Homo sapiens: one gene and its partners. The protein of the gene in region 1 purifies or fractionates together with the protein of each later gene. This does not show direct contact. Each region holds a gene or a part of one and is shown in the gene's direction. Other genes may lie near its edges.

Region 1 (7,039 bases):
CCGGAAACAATGCACATGATTGCTTTAAAAAAAAAAAGTCTCCATGTACAGTATCTCTTGACTAGTACGGATCTAGTGAATTGTGAATTGATGAAATGCCCAAATACTAATATAGAGCAAAATTAAGGAAGACATGACTTGCTCACTTGAGGAAGGTGAGGGTGGCCATTTGAGAGTATCTTCTGTCAGTTTCCTGATTTTGATATTGTGCTAAAAGTTATACAAGATGTTAACACCTGGAGAGGCTGGCTGAAGATTTACTTCTTGTGAATCTATAATTATTTCAAAATAATCTAAAACAAACTAAAGTAGCTCCCCAACAGCTTGACCACACAGAATCCTTAGGCTACATTCCTGAGAGTTCTGGTACATCCCACATGGCCCTTCTAGGACCAAGGAGGTAGAAAGTCACCCCCTAGAGATTCTGATTCAGTAGGGGTGAGGCAGGGCACAGGGCATGGTTTAGCCTCTGGAAAAAGCAGCCCACTTCACCCCCAATTCTGAGGCAGAGCCGTAGATAAGGACCACACCCTAGAAGAAAGCCACGTAGGACTTGCTGAAGCATCTACTGAAAGGTGATGCTCAGCAAAACATCTTCTCTGTCCTAAGACTTTGCTCAATTGGGACTGAATCGTTCTTGAATTTTCCATAGTCGATGAAATCAGTACTTGGACGTGTTCATTGAGTAAGCTTTATCATTACCCATTTAGCAAACAAGACGCGCTTGATGGTTATAGTGGAAAATACTTGAGAGCCAGCTCTCTCCATGTGATTTAGAGTTCCCAAATTAAGGGTCAAAATTGACCCAAGGTTATATTTAAGAATAATAGTTGAAAGTGTCAACACATTAATAAAGTGTTAAAGAATACATTGTCTGGAAGAGAAAGTAAATGACAGCTAAAAACCTCAAGACGTATAACCTATTCACTTCAGGTTTTAACAATTTTGAAATAGGAGCTTTAATTAGGCTTGTAACAAGTTACCACTTGTAGGGGATTTTATGCTTTTTGATAATGAGGTACAGATGAATGTGTTTTGTTATTGCTTTATTTTTGTTTTTGTAATAATCCAACTTTATGTTACTCTGAGAGCCTATATTCTCTTAATCTTTAAGAAAAAAAGAAAATATATCTGAAAAGTAGGTCCTCGTACTTTCAAGTTCAGAAAATGGTGGTATTGGCTCTTTCAGACTGCTCACTTCAATTGAGCCAAGTAGCTTATGGAAAACTTAGTTTTTAAATAAAAACACCACATAAACACTACCTAGTAATGCTTTTTGAAAAATGTTTTTCTGTGTTTGTAAGCTAATTTATTTGAATGGTGAAAATATTGGTTTAAGCACCCAGTCTTTTCTACCCTAAGCTCCAATTTAATATTAGATGTGTTGCTATGTGCTTCACGAGGAGAAATATTTGGCTGTTGTGCGATTCATAATTCTTCCTGAAATATCTGGGGTCCAAGCCTGGCTCTTAGCATCAAGAGTAAACTGGGAGTTGTTTTTGTCACCAATTCTAATAGACATGTTTCGGGTTAAAGGATACCAGTTAGTTGACTCATTCTGGATATTAGTCAGAATGTGAAGTATCATCATAGAAGTGATCTCATCAGAGAGTCCATCTGATGTGTGGTTACCATGGGGACATTGTCTCAGTCTCATACTAATGACAAAAAAAAATTGATGTTGCTTCTGTTCAGGTTCTTTTATAAAACATATTAAGGAAGTTAGGTAGATAATTTTTGTTTAGGCCATATAGCTTTGATTTTCTGATAACAATTTTATAAACTTAGAAATTTTCATGTAAGATACAGGAATACTGGAAGCAAAAAAAAGAAGGTGCTTTAACCTTAGGGATTGAAAAAATAGTAATTTAGGTTGAAAATGCTGCTTGAAAGTTAATGCTGATAGCATTACTACACATGATGATTTTTTCTGGAAGGAAAGCTTTATCTGGGCCTTCAATTTAGGAATTTTTCTCTTTGGTTTTTAAAAGCTGCCATATTCACTTGAGCTTCATGGGAAAGATGCAAATAACTAAAACAAATGAACAAAAACCATGTTGAGGTCAGGAACTTATTTCAAGAAAGCAAGTTCTAGGTTTTCTTTTAAAGTGACAGTAGAGCCTTAGGCCTCAAACCATCTACAACCATGTTAACAGTACATCACTCAAATCATTCAACATTCCTGAATGTTTACCTGTGCCAAGTACTGACCAGCGCAGTATCAGATGTTCACAGTAATGATATATTGCCAAGAGAATGCTTAGGCATGTCCCATATATTCTGTTTATGGATAAAGGAGTGCACCAAACATTTTAGTGCTATTTTCGCCCAAAGTCCCTCTGTCTTTAATTTAAACTTAACAGAAATCACTTATTTTTCCCAGTGGTACTGAATAATTATGCATTGCTGTGGATTCAGTGTCAGGTTAAAGCCTCAGTGCATCGCTTAGCTAGGTCAGCATCATTACCAGTGTGTGCTTATCATGCCAGCCATCCAGAATAAACAGCACTTGGGCCTAGCGCTGCCAGAGTTGAGACCTGCAGAGTGTGCTGCATGCCTGGGAAAGTTTGAGAAGACATTGTGGAGAGCATGTTCTTGGGCAGTTTTCACCTTAAACCTCTTGCCATTCACATGCAGAAAACTGTTGCTGCTGAAAGATGCTTTTCCAGAAATACACTGTGTTGTAGGGGAGGGAACACTGGTGTTCAAAGTGATTAGTCTGATGACAGAGGAAAATGGTTGGGGAGGGAGCTACATAGAGGAAAAGTGCCCAGACGCAGCGCCTCCAGAGAAGATGGTTGTACAGGGGCTGTGTGGGCCTTCATGTCTTCATTCGGTCAGCGAGCCTGTGTTCTGCCTCCCTCTGACCAGGCGCCATTGTAGTTACTGGGGATAAAGGATGGGAATGAAGCAAGTGTGTACTTTCATGGAGCCCATGTCCTAGGGGAGGGGATAGTACATATGTACAGTGAACAAGTACATATGTAATATGTCAAATGGTCATAAGTGATAGGGAAAATCAGATGGGAATAGGGAGTGCTGTTGTGAGGGTAACATGTTTTTTTGTAGGGTGTCGGAGAAGGTCTTACTGATTAAGATTATTGGATCAGAGATGTGAGAGAAGACAAGAAGCCATGAGGTAAACGAATTCCAGGCAGATGGAATAGTAGCCGCAAAGGCCCTGAGAGTGGCATGTGCTTGGTGCCTTTAGGGAGTGGCACAGGAGGCAGGTGTGACTTACGTGGAGCGAGTGAGTCTGAGAGCAGAGATGTGGCGGGGGAGATGGCCAGATGGCAGACAGCTGCATAAGCCATTGGAAGGACTTCCACCTTTACTCCTCGCAAAGTGGAAAGCTACGGGAGGATTTGGGGCAAGGAAAGGACTTGATCTGACCTATGACACTGTCACTCTGACTTGAGAAGTACAAAGATGAAAGCAGGGGAGCAGTTAGGTTTTTATAATCAACCAAGTAAGAGATGATGGTGGCTTGGACCTGGGTGGTAGCCACGTGGTGACAAAGATGAATCCAAGGTTTTCAGCTCAATCAGCTGGAAGTCATGTACTGAAATGGGGAGACTGTGGGAAGAGCAGGACTGGGTAGGGGGAGCCAAGAGTGTTTGGCTTTGGTTGTGTTAACTTGAGAGTTCTTCAGATGCCTCTTAGGCAGTCTGGTGGGGTGGTAGAGTGGACACTTGGATAGCCAAGTCTGGAATTCAGAGGGGATGCTGGAGAATGATAGGTCCTTACTAGTCACTAGAGTATGGATGGTATTTGAAGCTATCAAATGTATCAACAGCACGTTGAGGGTGAGTATATATAGAGAAGAGGTGAGAGGTCTGAGTCCTGCCATTTCACAGAAACCAGGGCATTGATTCAGAATTCACAGAGAACAGTTAGCTCAGAGTTTTCTTAATATCCTATCTTTTTAAAAAATAAACATGTCATTGTTCCCTTTTGAGACAGTTGCACCGTTTAACAATAATTCCTGAATTTTATTTTTCTTCCTTTCCTTCTTTCTTTTTAGTGGCTTGTACCTGATCAATTGCTAATACTGTTTAAAATTGATAGGCACTTTTTGGTCTGGTAATCTGATTTTTTTGTGGAACATCATTAAAAGAACAATTGAGAGATTTATAGCCATAGAAAATTGAGGCTTCTATTACTCAAGATAGAAGTTAGCGTAAGTCTGATCTGAGTTTTCCACTGTTTTTTTTTGTTGTTGTTGTTATAAGCCTTGGTGTGGGTTGTAATTTCATGGTCGGCAAATCTGGTGAAATTTATTTTGCGAGAAATCAAAAGATGTACTATAATAGTAGACTGTTCCTTCACGCTGAACTTTATTTATTTTTTGCCTTTTCTAGCCATTATTTGCATTTTTAAATGAAGAAAAGTTTAACGTGGATGGATGGACAGTTTACAATCCAGTGGAAGAATACAGGAGGCAGGTAAGATGTTAGATGCTATTGTCTGGTATGTGATGAACCTGAAACATGCATTATGACAGTATGTCATCAGCCATGCTTTCTGAAAATCAGCGACATCCTTGCTAAATATCTTTTCAATGGTGGTGATATTATCCACATTTTGTACAATATATCTCATTCTATCTATTACTGTATAACTTATAAGCTCATTCCATTGCCATATGCAAGCTGCATCGAAGACTGGGTCACTAAATCCTATTTCCTTCCCTATATGAAGAGCATCAATTCTGTGTTGTTTATGAAATGAATTAAATACTTAGGATTTAGAAAAGTCAAACATTTTAGAAGTTACACTTTAGGACTTGATATTGCTATGTATATGCATGTTTGGGAGCTTAACTATTACCTGCAGTTAGATTTAAATTATATTCATTTCAGTTTGCAGATTCAAATGAATTAGAACTGTTTTCCTGTAGTGATGTCTTTTTCAAGGAAGCTTTGATAAGTGTACATTATAATTGTCTTTACTGTTCTCTTATATGAATGTCACCTACATGCATGTTTATTTGCTATAATAAAGGCAAGAGGCTTGGTCTCATATTGCTGTTCAGGAACAAAAGTCTCTTGCAGTATTTTTGTTAAGGGAATTCTGTGCATAATATGTAACAAGAGCCACAGTTTGACCTCTGGTATAACCAAATCTGTAGGCAGCTAGGAGTTGTGTGATGGGATTATTCACAATTCTTGTTCTACAAAGCTCTTAAGATAATTGAAAAGTTTTGTTGAATGAGATTTGAGAATCAGATCAAACCCATTTGCTTTATATGAAAAGGTAGTGAATATAAAGTAAAATCGTAGAACCCTAGACTTGAGAAGAACCATCTAGTCACCACCTTCACCATGAAAAACCTGGATTGGTTTCCTTTTTTAGTCTTAATCAACGGTTTGCATATTCATGAACAGATTTGACGCTCTGGAATTTGGGTGCAGGAGTTTAGCTTTAGAACATATGTGACATAGTATATCCTGTTGCTTCCATAAGTCACGTTTAGACTGTTGAGTTTTCTAAGGCTTTGCACTACTCCCATTTTAATGGCCTCAGTTCTGGACTAGCTACTGAGGCGGAAGAAGGACCATGAAAACATTTTGCATGTTTTGGAGACCTCTGTAAATGATGTATTAAAATATTTTTACCTTCTTTTTGAAGTATTACTGATAACATTAAGACTTTTTTTTAGTTCAAAGCTTCTAGCTTGAAACAAAACAGTTCCTGTTTTTAAGATTGCATGCATATATGAACTGTTGAAGGTATTTTGTTCTAGACTGCCATTATATTCAATCTTTTTTTCTTATAACTTTCTGATGGGACTTATAACTGTCTAATTGGACTCAGCATCAGACTCAACATCTGTTTGGTCCGTGGTCTCTAGGGCCAGACCTAAAGAAAAGGTACAATGTCTGTCCCCAAAGCAAACACCCACATAGCTCACTTTTGTGTGTGTATCTGTGCATTTGTGAGAATGGGGAGAGAATATTCCACCACCTCTGGATCTTTTCCATACTAAATACAATTTTGTGGGGGAGATGATAGGATGGGAGGTGTCTTCTGTGTCTCCCTGTCACATTAGCAGTCTGCTTAAAATGCAAATGACTGTATTTCTCACACAAACTATAGGGCAATCATCGATTCCGAACAACTTGATTGAAAAAAAACTCATCGGAGGTGGCGAAATGAGCCTCCCCAGAGGGATCTTCCTTTACTTCCCCTCATGATTTTCTTCATGAGCTCAGCCTCTTTCCACTTTGGAGCAGACTGAAGCATTCACTCTATTTTGAGCAGGGAGAGGAAGTTGCCTGATCTCTTTTCTACCCTCAGTTAGAGCCAGATTAAGATGAAGCAGGGTATTTTTTTAGGGGATGGGAGGGGTGCATGGGCGGGGGATGAACTTGGGTTTATCTGTGTGGTACAGGTAGTAAAGAATATGTGGACACAAAATAAAGGAAGACGAATTCCTTTGAATTCAAGAGAATCTGTATTTACAAAGTATAGTTTAGAACTGTAAAAACCACCAGTGTTTTGTCTTGTGTTCTTACGTTGTCTGGATTATTGATTTGGCACCCTTATTATAAATAGGTAGACCGTCATCACCCTGTGGTCAAAGAGGCATGTGCACATATTGCTAGAAGGAAGAAAAGAGGCCCAAGGCCAAATCCAGAGATGAGGTCAAGCAATACTGACTTGAATTTCTTTTTTTCCTCACAGGGCTTGCCCAATCACCATTGGAGAATAACTTTTATTAATAAGTGCTATGAGCTCTGTGACACTTACCCTGCTCTTTTGGTGGTTCCGTATCGTGCCTCAGATGATGACCTCCGGAGAGTTGCAACTTTTAGGTCCCGAAATCGAATTCCAGTGAGTACTGCAATTAACGTTTCTCTTGAAGAGCACCTTTTAGTCCATAAGAATGGTAGTCATATAACTTAGAGAAACGGTCCTTTTGGAATTCTATCCCAAAAAATACTTACTAAGTGCTTTGTGAGTACAAAGTACCATACCAGACTGGAGAAGAAGTGTGCCGTCACCTGCCTTCTAGGAGCTTGCAACTAAGGATCAA
Region 2 (7,039 bases), on another chromosome or scaffold:
ATGCACCATTCACTTGTAGGTTAAATGTGGGGTAGAGGCGGGGTAGGAGGTGCTGGAAATTATGGGTCCTGTTTGGGATGGGGCTGAGTGTGAGAAGCTGCCCCTCTGTCCAAAGCTTCTGTTTCAGTGGTCCCCTCCAAGATTGGGCTGAGGAGGAATGAGTGTGGCTGGATCTAGGCAACTTTGTCACCATCACCTGTCAGTCCTGAAAATGTGACAGCTCTAAGGCCCCTAAAGACACCTGGACCAGAGGTTGCAAAGTGGGAACCCGTAGGCTGCATGCATTCATAAATATGCGACACAGTGTAAATTACTTGCCCACGTTTAAAGTTTGAATGGTTTCACATACAGACCCCCATATCTGGCTTCTCTTGACACCTTTATTCCCATGTGTCAGTCATCGTCTGCAGCAGAGTCGGCCAGCCCTATTTGGCGGCTAGCAGGGTACCTCCAAGTGGCCATAGGTCCCATCAAAAGGTTTTGCTCATTCTGTTACCTGTTGGTGTTGAGAACAAATGATGATGGAGTTGGTCTGGGTTTGCTCCTTGCATCAACACCTTAACTTCATTCATTTATTCATGCAACAAACACCCGAATGGCTACTGTGTAGCAGCTACCATCAGCCACTGATCTAGATTATTGTCTTTAGTGAGGAAAAGCATGCATTCTCTCCTTTATTCCTCACAACATTCCTTGTGAAGTAGGTGTTCAGTTTACAGATGGGGAAACTCAGAGAGTCAAGACACTTGCCCAAGATCACGCAGATAATGGGGACCAGAGGCAGGACGGGGATCCAGGTGTTCTGATGAAAGTGCTAGGCTTCATCTCCATCCTAGCTGCCTTTCCCAGGATCTCCCTTGACATTGTTAAAGAGAAGGTTAAGATCTTATTTATTCTTACAACAAATATTTATTGAGTCCCTAATATTTGTCAGGCTGAGCTATGTCCTAGATGTTTATTTGGCATAGATTAGATGCTGTCCTTTCCACAAAAGAGGATTGTAGAGTCTGATGTCATTACCCTGAGATTATGTTTCCCAGTTGGCGTTGGGTAACCCACTGGCATGTCTCCACTGTGTCCCCAGGATCAGAGCAGTGCTTGGCACATAACTGGGCTCAACACTGCACAATGTTAAAAGAATTCTGCTGTGTCTGGCTATGATTTCCTGGGGGAAGAAGCCTGAAGACACTTGAAGTTTCATGTTTTAGTCTTTTTTTTTTTTTTTAAAGACAGGGTCTTGATTTGTTGCCCAGGCTTGTTTACAGTGGTACAGTCATAGCTCACACTGCAGCCTCGACCTCCTGGGCTCAGGCAATCCTCCCACCTCAGCCTCCTGAGTAGCTGGAGCTACAGGCATGCATCACCATTCCTGGCTAATTTTTTTATTTTGAGACGGAGTCTTGCCCTGTCGCCCAGGCTGGAGTGCAGTGGCGTGATCTCGGCTCACTGCAAGCTCAGCTTCCCAGGTTCACGCCATTCTCCTGCTTCAGCCTCCCGAGTAGCTGGGACTACAGGCACCCGCCACCACACCTGGCTAATTTTTTTGTATTTTTAGTAGAGACGGGGTTTCACCGTGTTAGCCAGGATGGTCTGGATCTCCTGACCTCATGATCCACCTGCCTCGGCCTCCCAAAGTTCTGGGACCACAGGCGTGAGCCACCATGCCCGGCCATTCCTGGCTAATTTTTAAATTTTTTGTAGAGTCAGGATCTCACTATGTTGCCCAGGCTACTCTCAAACTCTTGGCCTCCTACCTCAGTCCTCCCACCTCAGCCTCCTGAAGCACTGGGATCACAGATCCAGCCTATCTTTTAGGATTGAGACCTGTTAAACTTGCAAATGAAGGGGTACTTTCAAGCTGTTGGTGATGTTTACACCTTCCTGAGAAAGAGGAGCTTGGGTTCTTGGGTTCAGGTAGGAGGTGGAGACATTGATTATTCACTCCTCCCCTTCTCGTGTACACCCTCCCCCACCTAAAAAAAAGTTATAGGAGATTTTCTCTGTCAAACTATCAAACTGATGAATTTGTTTCCCATTTTTTATTAATTAAAGATTAATTGCCACTCAGAATGTCTGTTGACAAGAAAGTTTTACCACTGAAGCTGTTAGAATTCCAGCCCAAAACAAAGAAAGAAATCTAGAGTTAGCCTGTATGACCTCCTCCCAGATAAATGGACTACAAGGGTGAAACTTTTTTAAACACTGGGGATAGCTTGGAGGTGTTTTTGAAGTTCCCCACTGGGATGCTGTCCTGGTTTGGGACCATCTGGTCTAGAGATGACAAAAGTGGGTTCCCAGCCTGAAGTTTGCTCTGGGCTAGCATTTAGGGTACCTCAGTGGAGTTCAGTGGGAAATTTGTGAAACCTAGGCCAGCTGTGGAGCTGGTATAGGAGTCTTTACCCTAAGAGCAGAGGGTTTAAGGTTCCTAGAGCGGATCAGCTGGTCAAGTTTTGTGAATAGATTCTATGATGTCAAGGCTCCTTCAGCCCTGACATTTGTGCTGTGTCCACCATCTGGTGTCTTCTTGCTTTACGTTTCAAGTCTTTGTATCCATGGTGGTGGGATTTAAAAAAAAAAATCACTTATCTTTTGATTTACATACAGTTTCCACTTTTTGCCTTGGACCTAAGCCAGAAGACATGAGTTCTCACCCCAGTTTTACCAAATACTGGCTGTGTAATCTTAGAAGTTATTCCATTTCTCTGGGCCTCAGTTTCCGTTACTCCAAAATGAGGGTGCTGGACTACAGCAGGGAAGATTAATAGGTTTCATCTTACAGATCAGCTCTGATCCGTTGATAATGGCCATCACCAGAGCACAGTGCTGAGAATTCTGAGAGCACCTCTAGGTTTATCAGGACAGAGGGGCACGATCCATTAGCAGTGTCTGCCATCAGCACTGGTTGGGGGAAAGCACATCAACCTTGGAAGGATAAACTTGAAGATTCCTTCCAGCCTCCTTGGATCATTGATTCTGTTGTAGTTGTATGTGCATTTTGGATTGTGCAGGTGTTTGATCTTTTGCTGGACCAGCATCACACAAGCCTTGATAATATAACAGCCTTGTGCCTGTGTGTGGGTTTCTTTTTTTTTTTTTTTGTACTGCAGGAAGATTGTTGATCGAATCGACAATGATGGGGATGGCTTTGTCACTACTGAGGAGCTGAAAACCTGGATCAAACGGGTGCAGAAAAGATACATCTTTGATAATGTCGCCAAAGTCTGGAAGGATTATGATAGGGACAAGGATGATAAAATTTCCTGGGAAGAATACAAACAAGCCACCTATGGTTACTACCTAGGTAAGAGGTGCTGCAGGAGCGATGACACAGTGGGGGCCCAGATCACAAGCTTTTTGTAGACTCTCTCTTCTCTTATCATATCCACTCCCTTCAGGGAGATGTCACAGCCTCCTAAGTAGAACCTGCTTGTATAACACCCTCCTCTGTAAACTCAGAATGTACTGAGTTGCTTACACTGAATGAAGTTACAGGTGGGAGGGAAGGGCTGTGAGGGCTAATAAAAAAAATCCCTTAGATTGAGACCCCATCTCAACTTCGTCTCAGATGCACACACGGAGAAGAAAGCAGAAAGGAAGTGTGTCTGTGGTATATTTTCAAAATGCTGCCTAATTCTGGATAGCAAGGATTGAGTGGGCCGGAGCAGTCAGGGAAGGCTTCCTGGTGTGGGTGGTTTGGAAACTGGAGCCTTGGAGAATGGATTTATATTTGGAGAAGGTGGGTCAACTGGAGGGGCAAAGATGCAGCAATGCATGCAGTAATGGGAAGGGTTTAGATCCAAGACAAACAAGATCGGGAGAAGGAAGGAGAAATGAGATTACAGAGGCACGGGGTGCAGACCTGCTGGGTGCATGGTGAGGTTGGCAAAGAAACAGGCCCAAGGAGAACCAAAGATGCACTCACGCGGCCAGAATCGGGGAGATCTTGAAAGCCAGGCACGGCGTTGAGACAAGATGTTTTGGGTACCAAAGAGCCTCTGTATGTTCCAGATCTAAGAATGAGATGATGAAAGTAGAGTTCTGCAAAGAGAAGTATGGCAGTAATATAGTCTAAAGCCTGCGCTCTTAACCACTTGCAGTAATTCCCCTAATATGCCATGAGGCCTAGATTATGGGGTGGCTTGAAGGGACTGATATTAGAGGCATTCTGACATAGAATGTTTTAAAGAACTCAGTAGGTCGGGACCTTTTTTCCCTATATGTACCATTTGAGCATGCAGGATGAGTGATCTGGCAGGAAACGCCTTTCTTGACCGCACGGTTTAAAAACATTTCTGCATACATACATCCTGCAGGAAACCCCGCAGAGTTTCATGATTCTTCAGATCATCACACCTTTAAAAAGATGCTGCCACGTGATGAGAGAAGATTCAAAGCTGCAGACCTCAATGGTGACCTGACAGCTACTCGGGAGGAGTTCACTGCCTTTCTGCATCCTGAAGAGTTTGAACATATGAAGGAAATTGTGGTTTTGGTAAGATAAGTGAAGAGTCTGGGCTGGGAAGAGACCAGGGAGAAAACTGCCTCCAAATCTTGTCTCTTCCAAAGAGAGAAGATTTTTCAGCCTGAAGGGAATTGGAGAAGGACTCTGAAGTAGAGTTTGTTGGAATCCCCGTCTACCCAGAAAATTAGTCAGGTCAGGCTGGCTGCTGTAACAGATAGCCCCCAGTTGTAGCCATTTAACACTAGCAAAGCTTGTTCCAGCCAGATGGACCTCCTGGGCTGTTCTCTGAGCACAGTTGGGTACCCAGTTCTCCTCTAAGCACTCCTGCTTGTGCTCTGCCATCTTGTAGCTTCAAAGTCATCCTGGCAACACCCAGCTGGCTGACAAAGGAAAAGAGAGGGAATGAGAAGATACAGTCTTTGTTTACTCTTCCGGCCAGGGAATGACACATCCCCTTCACGTATGTTCCACTGGTCCCTCCTAGATATGAAGAGGCTGGGAAATACAGTTTAGATACGTGCCTAGAAAGAGTAAATGGGGCCCAGGCACAGTGGCTCACGCCTGTAATCCCAGCACTTTGGGAGGCCGAGGCAGGCGGATCATGAGGTCAGGAGTTTGAAACCAGCCTGGCCAATATGTTGAAATGCTGTCTCTACTAAAGATACAAAAAAAATTAGCCAGGCATGGTGGCATGTGCCTGTAATCCCAGCTACTTGGGAGGCTGAGGCAGGAGAATCGCTTAAACCCAGGAGGCGGAGGTTGCAGTGAGCCGAGATCGTGCCATTGCACTCCAGCCTGGGCGACAGGGTGAGACTCCTTCTCAAAAAAAAAAAAAAGAAAGAGCAAATGGCTTAAGTGAGCAACTAGCTAGTCTCTGCCCCATTTTTCAATTTTAAGGGACTTGGAAAAAGACTCAGAAATGGAATGAATTGGATTGTTAAAACTGTATGGAAATGTAAAGTAAAAATTATGGCTGGAAGAGATGCTACCCTTAGCGGGTGGGTCTTTGGAGGGTGGGTGGATCAGGCCCTAGGCTTTGAGGAATGACTATGCTTGTAAGGCCTCAGAATGTAGTTGCTTTCCGTAGTGTCTTGTTGGGTCCCAAATGTCTTCATTTTCCATGACAATTAAATAAATGCCATCACCTGTTTTCCTGGGCAGATGCACCAACCCAGTTCCAACTGTTTCAATCCTGGGAAACAGATGGCTAGAGCTTTTGTTTACACGAGCTGTGGATGGTTTTAGTTATCCAGGTGGTGGAAGGGTCCACTCATGCTTCATCCTCCTGACTGCCATGACTGTAAGGACTGGGCAGTGGCTCCAAGAATCATTTCTCTTTACCACTCAACATTCATGTAGTGTTAGCTAATGTGGCAGAGGACAGTGCAGGTGGTGAATGATCCCGAGTAGACTACGAGCCTTTGGGAGTGGCTCTCTGCTCTCAGGTTGGCTCTTTGGTTTGACCCAGGATGCCTCTGAGTTGCTGTGCCAATGAACAGTAAACTCATTTAATTATTGACCCAATCAAAAAATACTGAATAAGAGGTCAAGTATACTAAATACAGAGCACAATACATCAAAAAGTCAGATATACTTTTATTTTTTAGTTGCCCACTGTTTCACATTTCTCTTGACACCAACTCAGTATTCATAGTCCTGTTAGCACTAGAGTCTATTCTTGTGGTCATCTAATCCAGTGGTTCTCACACTGGGTTTCTCGCATGTTCCCCAGTGGGTGTTTTGGCTGGATGGTGGAGTTAGTTGGCCTGGCAGGGCCTCCTGATATCGTCAGAGCACCTCTGGGGTTACAGGTACATCTTGCTTGCTTTGAAGAAAGCATTCTGCTCTGGAAACTGGGGTGGGGGATTAGGAACAGAAACTATTGCCTGTTTTTTACAGATAAAAAACTAGTTCCCAGGGAAGTAAGGCGATGAGCCAGAAGTCACCAAGCATTCAGCCGTAAAAGCTGGACAAATGAGGACAATAGAATTCTCAGACTTCTTAGAGCACATGGCCATCTTGCATTCTGTTTTACCTTTTGCTTCCTAGGAAACCCTGGAGGACATCGACAAGAACGGGGATGGGTTTGTGGATCAGGATGAGTATATTGGTGAGTACTGACCTAGAGTCTTGCTCAGCTGTCCTGACTGGGCCACATGACCCCACCCACACGTCTGGCTACTTTCCCCAGACGTCTCTTTTAGCAACAGCTGCAAGTCTATACGTCACTCCTGGGAGCTTCCAGCCTGCTTGTCCCATCAGCCCTAGTGATGTAGTATCAGGGAAGTATTATTAGGCCTCATTCAGTGGAGAAGAGATGAAAAGGCTGGCCCTACACAAGGCTGGCCAACAGTTGGCCCCATGACTCTGAGAGGTGCCCTTCATCACACTGCCTAGTTTTACCTTTGCAAAAGGACATTGGAGATCCCATAGATTTACAGTGAAGATAGAGGAGACAGTGTCAGGGCAAAGCCTCTAAAACTGGACTGGGTCAATGGAGCCTAGAAACTCTGAGTAGATGCAGCTGTGATTAACAGAACTGTTTATGTGTCTGAGCACTTTGCAGAAAGGCATTCT
Region 3 (3,359 bases), on another chromosome or scaffold:
TGAGAAATAATCTCACTCTGAATCTCACACCAGTGTCTCCAGGAGAGCAAAGGCACTAGACTAGCTCAGCCTTGGAAAAGCCTGAACCAGCCCCACACTATTTGCCACCACTTAGTACTCACTGCCTGTGAACTTTGGGAAAGTTCTTCCCATTCTCATATAAACAGAATCTTTCCTCTTTCCTGGCTGCATCAGTATGAGGAGCTGCAGCAGACAGCTGGCCGGCATGGCGATGACCTCCGCAACACCAAGCATGAGATCTCTGAGATGAACCGGATGATCCAGAGGCTGAGAGCCGAGATTGACAATGTCAAGAAACAGGTAGGGTGAGATTGAAAGAGGGCAAGGAAGGGGCCTGAGTTCTAAAAGAAACACCTACTTTGTTTTATTTTGTTTTACTTTTGCTAAACACACGCAGCTAGATCCAGTACCAGTGTTTCAGTGTCCTGCCACCCACGATGTACTGGTTTCTCTCTGGGATTCATGATAGTTTGGTTTGTCTGACCCAGAAACTCAGAAGGAGACACCTCAGGTCCCAAGCAACCCCACTCTCCTCCTTTCTATCTGTAGTGCGCCAATCTGCAGAACGCCATTGCGGATGCCGAGCAGCGTGGGGAGCTGGCCCTCAAGGATGCCAGGAACAAGCTGGCCGAGCTGGAGGAGGCCCTGCAGAAGGCCAAGCAGGACATGGCCCGGCTGCTGCGTGAGTACCAGGAGCTCATGAACACCAAGCTGGCCCTGGACGTGGAGATCGCCACTTACCGCAAGCTGCTGGAGGGCGAGGAATGCAGGTGAGTAGACAGCATGAACTCAAGATGGCCTTCAGCTGATAAAGCGAAGCTGCTCTACTGTGGGGTGTACAACACACATACATGAGATCAGTGACTTGTGCGTGATAATGACACATCATCAACACTATTTCAGTCTGACTCATGGCCATATAGCTGACCTCAACTCACTTTTCTGGTCTCTTTTCCCCCACCGGTGTTCCTGGGCACTGGCTGTCCTCCAAGCACCTGAGCAACTCAGCAATCTTCTTGACACTTGTGCCTTTTCTGCTTTTGCTCACGTCCTTTGCTCAACCTCAATATCCATGTCATGCCCACCTCCATCCACCCTTGTCCTCCAGTACCCCTTCCTTCAGGAAGGCTTTCATGTTTACTCCAGCTGAGTTAAACTCAGCTACCTTTGGATTGTCAAACTACTGTTTGCTTCAACCTCTGACATTGCCCATTGCCTACTTTCTGTTGGAGGAATTTCTGTCCGTGCCAAGTTCTCTCACAGAATGTAACTCCTACAAGGCAAAAACTGCTTTCGACATAATCACATTTTCCAAATCTCTTATACTTTCCCCATAGTGGGTGGAGAAGAATGTGAATTATAATTCTTTCCTAACAACTTGTTTCTAGGTCAATCCCTCTTCATTGGAAAATCCCTCTGGAGAGTTCTCCCTTCCTTTAACTTAAGCAGCTTTTGGGTGTACAGACTCCTGGCTTATGGAATGAACTCGAATCATGAGGATGGGAGTTAGCCACATAGACTAATGCTGTCTTTTTGGGAGCTGTTAACCCTTAATTCAATTTTTCCCCTTTCAGACTCAGTGGAGAAGGAGTTGGACCAGTCAACATCTGTAAGTAGCTTTGAACAGACATTAACAACGACAATAATATGGGATATATTTAGTGCCAACTCAGAATTCTGCTGTTTCTAGATCCAAACTTTTCCCATCCCAGCATATGGTTATTTATAATAATACACTTAGTAAGTTGTGGGTGGTGGAGGGGAAGGACAGATTGGGACAGGAAGCAATGTGGCTTATGTCTCATCTCTTAAAGGGTAAGCCATGCATCCTATGCTTCTTGGACCCTGTCCCCTGCCTTGTCCCTAGTACCTAGCTCCCCCCAGTACCTAGCTCCTCCCCTCAGTACCTAGCTCCCCTCAGTACCTAGCTCCCTGTAGTACCTAGCTCCCCTCAGTACCTAGCTCCTCTCAGTACCTAGCACCTTGCCTCTTACACTCACCCACTTTTTTAGGGACCTTAATTAAATGACAGTTCTTCCGGGCCTTGTTTGCTACTCTGTAAAGGGGGTCCAGTAGAGTGCTCCAACACCAGCAGATCAAATAAATGGGCCATGCAGGATCAGCCTGGCAGATGGTCTCACTGAGTCCTCCCTCCTTTCCCTGCAGCTGTTGTCACAAGCAGTGTTTCCTCTGGATATGGCAGTGGCAGTGGCTATGGCGGTGGCCTCGGTGGAGGTCTTGGCGGCGGCCTCGGTGGAGGTCTTGCCGGAGGTAGCAGTGGAAGCTACTACTCCAGCAGCAGTGGGGGTGTCGGCCTAGGTGGTGGGCTCAGTGTGGGGGGCTCTGGCTTCAGTGCAAGCAGTGGCCGAGGGCTGGGGGTGGGCTTTGGCAGTGGCGGGGGTAGCAGCTCCAGCGTCAAATTTGTCTCCACCACCTCCTCCTCCCGGAAGAGCTTCAAGAGCTAAGAACCTGCTGCAAGTCACTGCCTTCCAAGTGCAGCAACCCAGCCCATGGAGATTGCCTCTTCTAGGCAGTTGCTCAAGCCATGTTTTATCCTTTTCTGGAGAGTAGTCTAGACCAAGCCAATTGCAGAACCACATTCTTTGGTTCCCAGGAGAGCCCCATTCCCAGCCCCTGGTCTCCCGTGCCGCAGTTCTATATTCTGCTTCAAATCAGCCTTCAGGTTTCCCACAGCATGGCCCCTGCTGACACGAGAACCCAAAGTTTTCCCAAATCTAAATCATCAAAACAGAATCCCCACCCCAATCCCAAATTTTGTTTTGGTTCTAACTACCTCCAGAATGTGTTCAATAAAATGCTTTTATAATATAAGCTGGTGTGCAGAATTGTTTTTTTTTTCTAGGTTTACAATCAGCCTAGAGATACCATGAGGGTCAGTCTACCCAGATGTGATTGGTTCTTTTGATGATTCACAGGGAGAATGGGATAACATTTAAGGGAAAGTGGCTATTGGGGGTGGCCCAGAGACTCCAAGAAGCACAGAGATTATAAAGTCTCTGCAATGAAGGAGTCTCTGGAGGGCATTAACGGGCATGTGCATTGTACTACAATTTAGACAGATTTTAGAGCCTTTTGTTAAAGAGGGCCCTATGCAAGGTGAGATGATTTGCAAGTAGCAGCATATTTGGGCTTAAGTAAAGTTTGTAAATGAAGAATATGTTGCCTTCAGGACCTCAAAAGACCTAAAAGATGTTGGTCCTATTGTAATATTGTGGGCGCTAAGATGCTCAATAGCTATTTTTTGACAGTGTCAGGGATGGAGTAGCTCTTGGTTTACCAAATAATTTCTGAAATTTAATGTGGCAGGACTTTGCATG
Region 4 (7,039 bases), on another chromosome or scaffold:
AAAGAAGACATATGGCCAAAAGTTATATGAAGAAGTGTTTAACATCACTAATCATCAGGTAAATGCAAATCTAAACCAAAATGAAGTATCATGTCACCCCAGTTGAAATGACTATTATTAAAAAGACAAAAAAAAAAAAAAAGATGCTGGTCAAGGTGTGGAGAAAGGGGAACCTTCGTACACTGTTGGTAGGAATGTAAATTAGTACAGCCACTATGGAAAACAGTGTGGAAGTTCCTCACAAAACTAAAAACAGAAATACCTGTAATCCACCAATCCCACCACTGGGTATATATCTAAAAGAAAGGAAGTCAGTATATTGAAAAGATATATACTTTCAAGGACTTACATGTTGAGTTTCAAGCACTCACATATTTCTTACAGCACTATTCATAATAGTCAGGATATAGAATCAACCTAAGTGTCCATCAGTAGATGAATAGATAAAGAAAATATGGTATATATAAACAATGGAATATTATTCAGCCATTAAAAAAAGAATGCTATCCTGTCGTTTGCTGCAGCAGGTAGCCTAGAGGACATTATGTTAAGTGAAATAAACCAGGCACAGAAAGACAAATATTGAATGTTCTCACTCACATGTGGGAGCTTAAACAGTTGATCTCAAGGAGGTAAAGAATGAAATGGACCAGAAGCTGGGGTCTGGGGGAGTAATGAACAGAAAAATACAGTTAGATAGAAGAAATACATTCTAGTGTTTGATAGCACAGTAGGGTGACCATAGTTAACAATAATGTGTTATATATTTGAAAAATAGCTAGAAGAGAAAATTTGGAATGTTCCTAACACAAAGAAATGATACACGTTCGAGGTGATGCATATCTCAATACCTTGATTCAATCATTACACATTGTATGCCTGTATCAAAATATCTCATGGTACCCCGTAATATGTACAATTATTTATGTATCAATTCTAACAAGAAAAAAGATAAAGTGATTCCTGTCCCTTACTTTAATTTCTTTACCCTGTCTTATAAAATTTCAAAAGATAAGACCTTCTCTAATGAAAAAGTAAAATTACAAAAACTATTCCCTACAAATGGAAATGACTGATGTTTACCCTATAGTTTTCCATGTAAAAGATTCTACCACTCTAGAGTGCCTTACTGCTTGTTTGAGTCCAACATAAAGGTCCTTAAATCTTTGATTTGCCACAGTAAGGAAGAACATCATACATAAATCCAATTAGCAATGTAACTTCAAAAGACTAAAATTAGCTTCCACCTCCTTATGTTTCAGGAAGGAGAACATGGACTGGATGAACACAAACTCCACATGTATCTTTCTGCCTTGCAGTCCTTGATCCCATCTCTCTTTGCATTAGTGCTACAGAATGCACCTTTCTCCAGCAAAGCCAAGCTTCATGGTGAAGTGCCACAGATAGAAGGTACTGAACTTAAATTCTGGAAGAAAAATGTAGAATATTAGCAGCCTAGCTTCCCAAAGAATTGTTTTTTATTAAAAGTCTAAAAATCACTTTATATGACAGCATAATTTTTAAAATGTATTATGTGTGTAGAATCTCATGGTCATAAGATTATACGTATGGTAAACAATATGGCTTCATCTTTTATGGATAAGCCCCATTGTCTTATTTTATAATACTTATACTTTCTTGTTGCTCTTAATCTATAGCCTTTTTATAGCCTTTCTGGGGAGGCTGAAATAAATATTTCCTTCCGTTAATAGATCTGAGTCAACAAAAGATTCTTTTAATAGTTACTAGTGCCAGTATATGAAGCTTGTCATTTCTGCTTTCTTTATATTTTCTTCCCCAACTTTTTAATTTTATTTTTAATAGAGGAAGGTAAATATAATTACTTTTTTCTACTATGTCCTTGATAGAAAGAAATATAAAAGCATCTGTGGCAGAATTTGTGTTTTTCCAAAGAAGAAATGTGACTTACTTTCAGAAGTACATAAAATTGACAGGAGAGGCCAGTATTTTCTTATCTTACTCTCCGAGTAGCTAGTAAATGACCTTTGAAACTTGACAGGCAATTGATAACCCTGTTGCACCTTAACGTCCAGGACAAATGGCTATAGACAAGCTATTGCTATGTATCAGGCACCTTTGCAGCCTTTTCAGAGTTGTGAAATTATCCATGTCTCTTACTGGTGTCTAATGGACAAAGAATTATAACATTGAGAACATCAACAGACAATCTTCTTGAATTTCATTTTTCATGTAAACTGTAGGCTACCTATAATATTTGGAGTATGATGCAGTGTGTCCAAAGATACATGAAGCCACATGATAAAAATAGTGTATACTATTTGGATGTCAGTTTTATTTGGAAAATTGAGAATGAATGGTGTGGAGTTAATTTAACATTTTTAAATTGAGGAGAATGAAAATTCAGACTTTAGATAAGACTTCATAAAGCTCTCCCAGCTGGCCACTTCAGGTTCTACCCCTTTACTCTTACTCATTTAGGCATTTCATCTGCCTAGGGATTTTCCTATCTTTCTAATTCCCTTTTTCTTTTTAGCTTTCTGTATTCGTTTACTATGGCTGCCTTAACAAAGGACCACCAACTGAGTGGCTTAAACAACAGAAATTTATTATCTCACACTTCTGAATTTTAGAAGTCTGAGATCAAGGTGTTGGCAGGGTAGTCTTAGGGAAACTGCGAGGTAAAGGCTGTTCTGGGCTCTCCCCTGGCTTCTGGTGGTTTGCTGGCACTCTTTAGTGTTTCTTGGCTTTTAGATGCATCACCCCAAACCTTGCCTTTATCTTCACGTGGCACACTTTCTGTGTGCTTGTTTCTGTGTCCAGATTTTCCCTTCTTATAAGGACATCGGTTGTGTTGGATAAGCGACTACTTCAGTATGATTTCATCTTGTCTAACTACATCTACAGCAACCCTATTTCCAAATAAGATCCCATTCTGAGATACTATAGGTTAGGACTTAAACATAAAAATTTGGGCGGGGGGCAGTTCAACTCATAATACTTGTTATCATTCTCTCATTTATTTAACAAATGATTCTTAAATGTCATCTATTGCCAAGCATATGCTGGAGATTAGATAGAACAGTATCATCCTGAACATATCCTTCTAATACTTATGGGATTCCCTTCTAACATTTATGTGACCTTTTCTTGTGATTGTCCTTTATTTTTCATTCTTGTTGACTTAGTTTAACTTTCTGACTTTTAACAGTAGCTATAAATGTTAATGTTACTATACCTTCATTTAGGTTATAATGTATTTATTATAAATAAGGATTTATTATATCCTTATTTAGGGTATATCCATATGTCTATATGTCCGTTTATATATACACACACATAAAATTTGGGTTATAATTTGTTATGAATGAAGATTTGTTTTCTCATAAAAATGGTAACCCACACAAATATTTTTAGTACCAATTTATTACACAACATGAACAAATATTTATGTCAGGCATTGTTTTAGACACTTAGGACACAATCATGAATAAAATAGATAAAAATTTCTGCTCATAGAGCTTACATTCTGCTGTGGGAATAAAATCTTTTGAGATTTGTTGGATTTGTTCTCATATCACAGGAATTTCTTGATTTTCCTAAAAATGACTTAATTAGTGTATTTCAATTTTATATTTAAAATTTACAATAAGAAAGTAATTAAATATGAGGAGAAAGGACCTTATTTTCCTTTCAACAGAATATCTAAGTTCCCAAAATGCCAATTTCCATATGATTTATTTTGCTTCTTTTATGTGTAGTGACTAGGTTTCCTCGGCCTATGTCGCCTCTTCAAGATGTGTCCACTATTATCGGAAGTCGTGAGCAATTGGCAGTGCTGCTGCAACTTTATGACTACCAGCTAGAACAAGAGGGTACAACAGGCTGGGAGAGTTTACTGTGGGTTGTCAATCAATTGTAAGTTACCACCTCCATATTAATTTGAATAGATGATAACTCTTATATTTAGCCTTGGCCCTAAGAACAAAATATAACAAAACTTTTAAAATGTAACTCGGCATCATTTTTGGTAAACACCTTTAGGACACAGAGGATTCACACCATTGGATATGTAATTTATCTGAGAAGAAGATGTTGCTGTATTTTATCCGAATGATCTATCTGCCATCTTGTTTGTCCAATCGTGGTGATGGATTTTAAACTACATCTAGACTTCTCATTTTTGAGGCTAAAATGATGCCATGTAAAGCCAAGCTCTTGTGTGAAGCATCAGATCCATAGATTTGAGTCACATTAACTCTGTACTCGGAATTCTACCATTAAGGTTTCATATATTTTCTGGCAAACAGTTAAAATTTACTTTTTTAAGTCTATACAGTATAATGTAATCTTACAACCTATTCAGAGGGTCCCAGACAATGCCTTTCCTTTCAAAGAACGAAATAGAACAGGTTATTAGATTTGCATTGTTTCAGAAATTGGCAAGGAAACAGTAATTTATATGTATCCCCTGCCTATTTTTCTTTCCTTTCATATTCAGGTTGCCACAACTTATAGAAATAGTTGGCAAAATTAATGTTACTTCAACTGCCTGTGTCCATGAATTCTCCAGATTTTTCTGGCGCCTTTGCCGGACATTTGGCAAAATTTTTACAAACACTAAGGTAAAAACTTGTATTCCATGTTTTCTTATATGAAAAAGACATAGAAATGTAATGTGTTAACACTGTAACAGGGTAAATAAAAGCATGAACCATTCTTTTATCTAATTCGCTTCTTTAATATCCTAGAATACTATGATAGTAAAAAAAAGTTCTAGTTGGTAATATTCTTATCTTTACTGATTTTCAGAAGATGATTTAGCCTAAGCTTAGTTCATATCCAGACTTGGATATAAGCTTTACTCATTGTAGATATCCTCAAAGATTTTCAATATAGGAAGTGTCAGCTAGGGAACTCAACCACAATCCTTTGAATGTGCTGCTGGTACTTACTGTCTATCACAGGTTCAGGAAGCAGCTGTTTGCTCAGCACACTTTGGTAAAAACCTCAAGCGATTATGGAACCACAGCAACTTATATATAAAACTTGCTGCGAAGATGCCACCTCTTAGAATAGCATGGACACTGGAGATAAATTCTACATGTTTCAGTCATTACCAAAAGTATCATTTGTCACATTTGCCTATCCAGGTTATTTTGTAGTTTCAAATATTAACATTGGAATGTCATTAGATCCTAATTTATTCATTAATCCTATTAATCCATTTGTCTTCATAACATTTTGTTAAGCCAGTACTTTAGAGAGCTAATAAAAACATAAAAAGGTGTAGTTTCTATAATCAAATGTTAATAAACACATTTAAAAGGTAAGCATTTTAATTATTAAATTTAATTTAGTGTAGCTCTTTACTATTAAATCTATAGTTGAAACATTTAAAGTAAATAGTATGCTATAAGGAACTGGACAAAATTCAGAAGACTTGGGTTATGGTCCTATTATCTGTTGACTAATGTTTATGATCTTTACTATTTAAGTTAAATTATGTGGGCTTAGTCTTTTCATGTGTGAAATGAAGAATTTGCTTCAGTGTCTTTTAATTCTCTTAGCGCAATTCAGTACATGAACCTTTTAACATTGGCCTTTCTCTCAGTTTAAGCTAAATATATAAATTAATGTGCCTCACCTACAGAGAGGAGGGCAAAAACCAGACCTTGATGTTATTGTAGGAAAAAGAAAATTAAAATTATTTTGTATTTTTCACTAGCATTCAGTTGTTAAACAAATATAATTTGATTTTCCTGTTATCAATATTGGCAAAAATTGTTTGATATCTCCAAAACAAGTAGCTATTTTTTTTTTTAGAAAAGCAAGTAGGAATCTACTTATGTACTTAACAGTAAGTGGTTGTCTTCAGTGGCCTGAAATCTGTGATAATTTTAATAATAAAAAATTTAAACAAACCTCTGTTCTAACTTAACATATTAAAGTTAAATTCTGTATTTCATATTTCAATTTGAAAAGTTGTAATAAAAGATGAACATAAATATCACAGGATGAATATGTTACTTACTAAACACCTGAAGTGACTGGAATTTCCTTTTCGTTTTTTAAAAATACAGGCAAATGCTTTTTTCGATAATTCTAACCATGTAATATCTACCTAAATAATCCTTCTATAACCAAGTTCAGTTTTAGAAGGCAGTAATTTCAACCACTTAAAATCATATTGGAAATTATTTTAATTTAATAAAAGAAACCAGAGGCCATTCACTTGTTGACTTGAGTTGATTTTTTCAAAAATTTATCCTTAAAGTTTTTATTTTCATTAATTTGACTCTTCTATCCTAAGCCTCATGATTAAGAATTATTACATTTCTGACCACTTAACTTAGTCATCTATAAAGCTAAATAAATAAATGAATAGTAGTAGCAACAGTAGTAAACATTTCATTTAATCAATTTGCCCATTGAACCTGAGACTTTTTGAATCTTCTCTTTGGGTTGCTTAGGTAAAACCTCAGTTCCAGGAGATTTTAAGACTATCTGAAGAAAACATTGGTGAGTTTGTTCATTATTACTTTTAAAAACAATTGCATTTCTTTATGCAGGAAAAATACTATATTCTCCATATATGTAAATTGTATAAATGAACTAGCAACTACAATTGAAAAGGAAAACTTATATTATGGAGTTCTTGGTTTTATAACTGTGTCACATCTAATATCCTTCCCATTAGTGGCAGTGAGATTAATCCCTGTCAATCTGATTGTGAATATATACCTTCATTGTAACCAAATTGATATAAGGCTGAGCTTTACAACCTGGGTACTCAACCTTTAGAGGTCTGAAGTAGTATATTCAAGAGACTGACAATTATAAAATAAGCTGCATCTAATTCCTAATTAGTTCTATAATACTTTTAAAAATTAAACATAGTGGAAAAGAACGGTATATAAGCATATATGTTTTCAAAATGAAACATGAGAGAAACTACAGACTTGAATGGGTAGCTCCAGCTACTTCATTGATAGTTTTCACTCATCTACTTTAACGAGTCTAGTTATGGTACCATTGGCCTAAGGACTTGTTTATGTAT

The links.
Region 2: the proteins of MTM1 (region 1) and RCN1 purify together in Homo sapiens (affinity purification with mass spectrometry, with the first as the bait; 2 studies listed by BioGRID). This does not show direct contact.
Region 3: the proteins of MTM1 (region 1) and KRT5 purify together in Homo sapiens (affinity purification with mass spectrometry; 2 studies listed by BioGRID and IntAct, with this or other methods). This does not show direct contact.
Region 4: the proteins of MTM1 (region 1) and RELCH purify together in Homo sapiens (affinity purification with mass spectrometry; 2 studies listed by BioGRID and IntAct, with this or other methods). This does not show direct contact.

Annotation. Positions count from the first base shown.
Region 1 is NC_000023.11:150,634,582-150,641,620, forward strand, and holds part of MTM1 (myotubularin), read left to right. Parts: exon of another isoform or gene 1-4,180; intron 4,181-4,361; coding exon 4,362-4,445; intron 4,446-6,687; coding exon 6,688-6,837; intron 6,838-7,039. UniProt on the Homo sapiens protein: Lipid phosphatase which dephosphorylates phosphatidylinositol 3-monophosphate (PI3P) and phosphatidylinositol 3,5-bisphosphate (PI(3,5)P2). Has also been shown to dephosphorylate phosphotyrosine- and phosphoserine-containing peptides.
Region 2 is NC_000011.10:32,094,037-32,101,075, forward strand, and holds part of RCN1 (reticulocalbin-1 precursor), read left to right. Parts: intron 1-3,107; coding exon 3,108-3,301; intron 3,302-4,313; coding exon 4,314-4,492; intron 4,493-6,511; coding exon 6,512-6,572; intron 6,573-7,039. UniProt on the Homo sapiens protein: May regulate calcium-dependent activities in the endoplasmic reticulum lumen or post-ER compartment.
Region 3 is NC_000012.12:52,514,069-52,517,427, reverse strand, and holds the end of KRT5 (keratin, type II cytoskeletal 5), read left to right. Parts: intron 1-195; coding exon 196-321; intron 322-570; coding exon 571-791; intron 792-1,595; coding exon 1,596-1,630; intron 1,631-2,187; coding exon 2,188-2,486; 3' UTR 2,487-2,853; downstream 2,854-3,359. UniProt on the Homo sapiens protein: Required for the formation of keratin intermediate filaments in the basal epidermis and maintenance of the skin barrier in response to mechanical stress.
Region 4 is NC_000018.10:62,260,249-62,267,287, forward strand, and holds part of RELCH (RAB11-binding protein RELCH), read left to right. Parts: intron 1-1,262; coding exon 1,263-1,410; intron 1,411-3,740; coding exon 3,741-3,897; intron 3,898-4,480; coding exon 4,481-4,604; intron 4,605-6,452; coding exon 6,453-6,501; intron 6,502-7,039. UniProt on the Homo sapiens protein: Regulates intracellular cholesterol distribution from recycling endosomes to the trans-Golgi network through interactions with RAB11 and OSBP.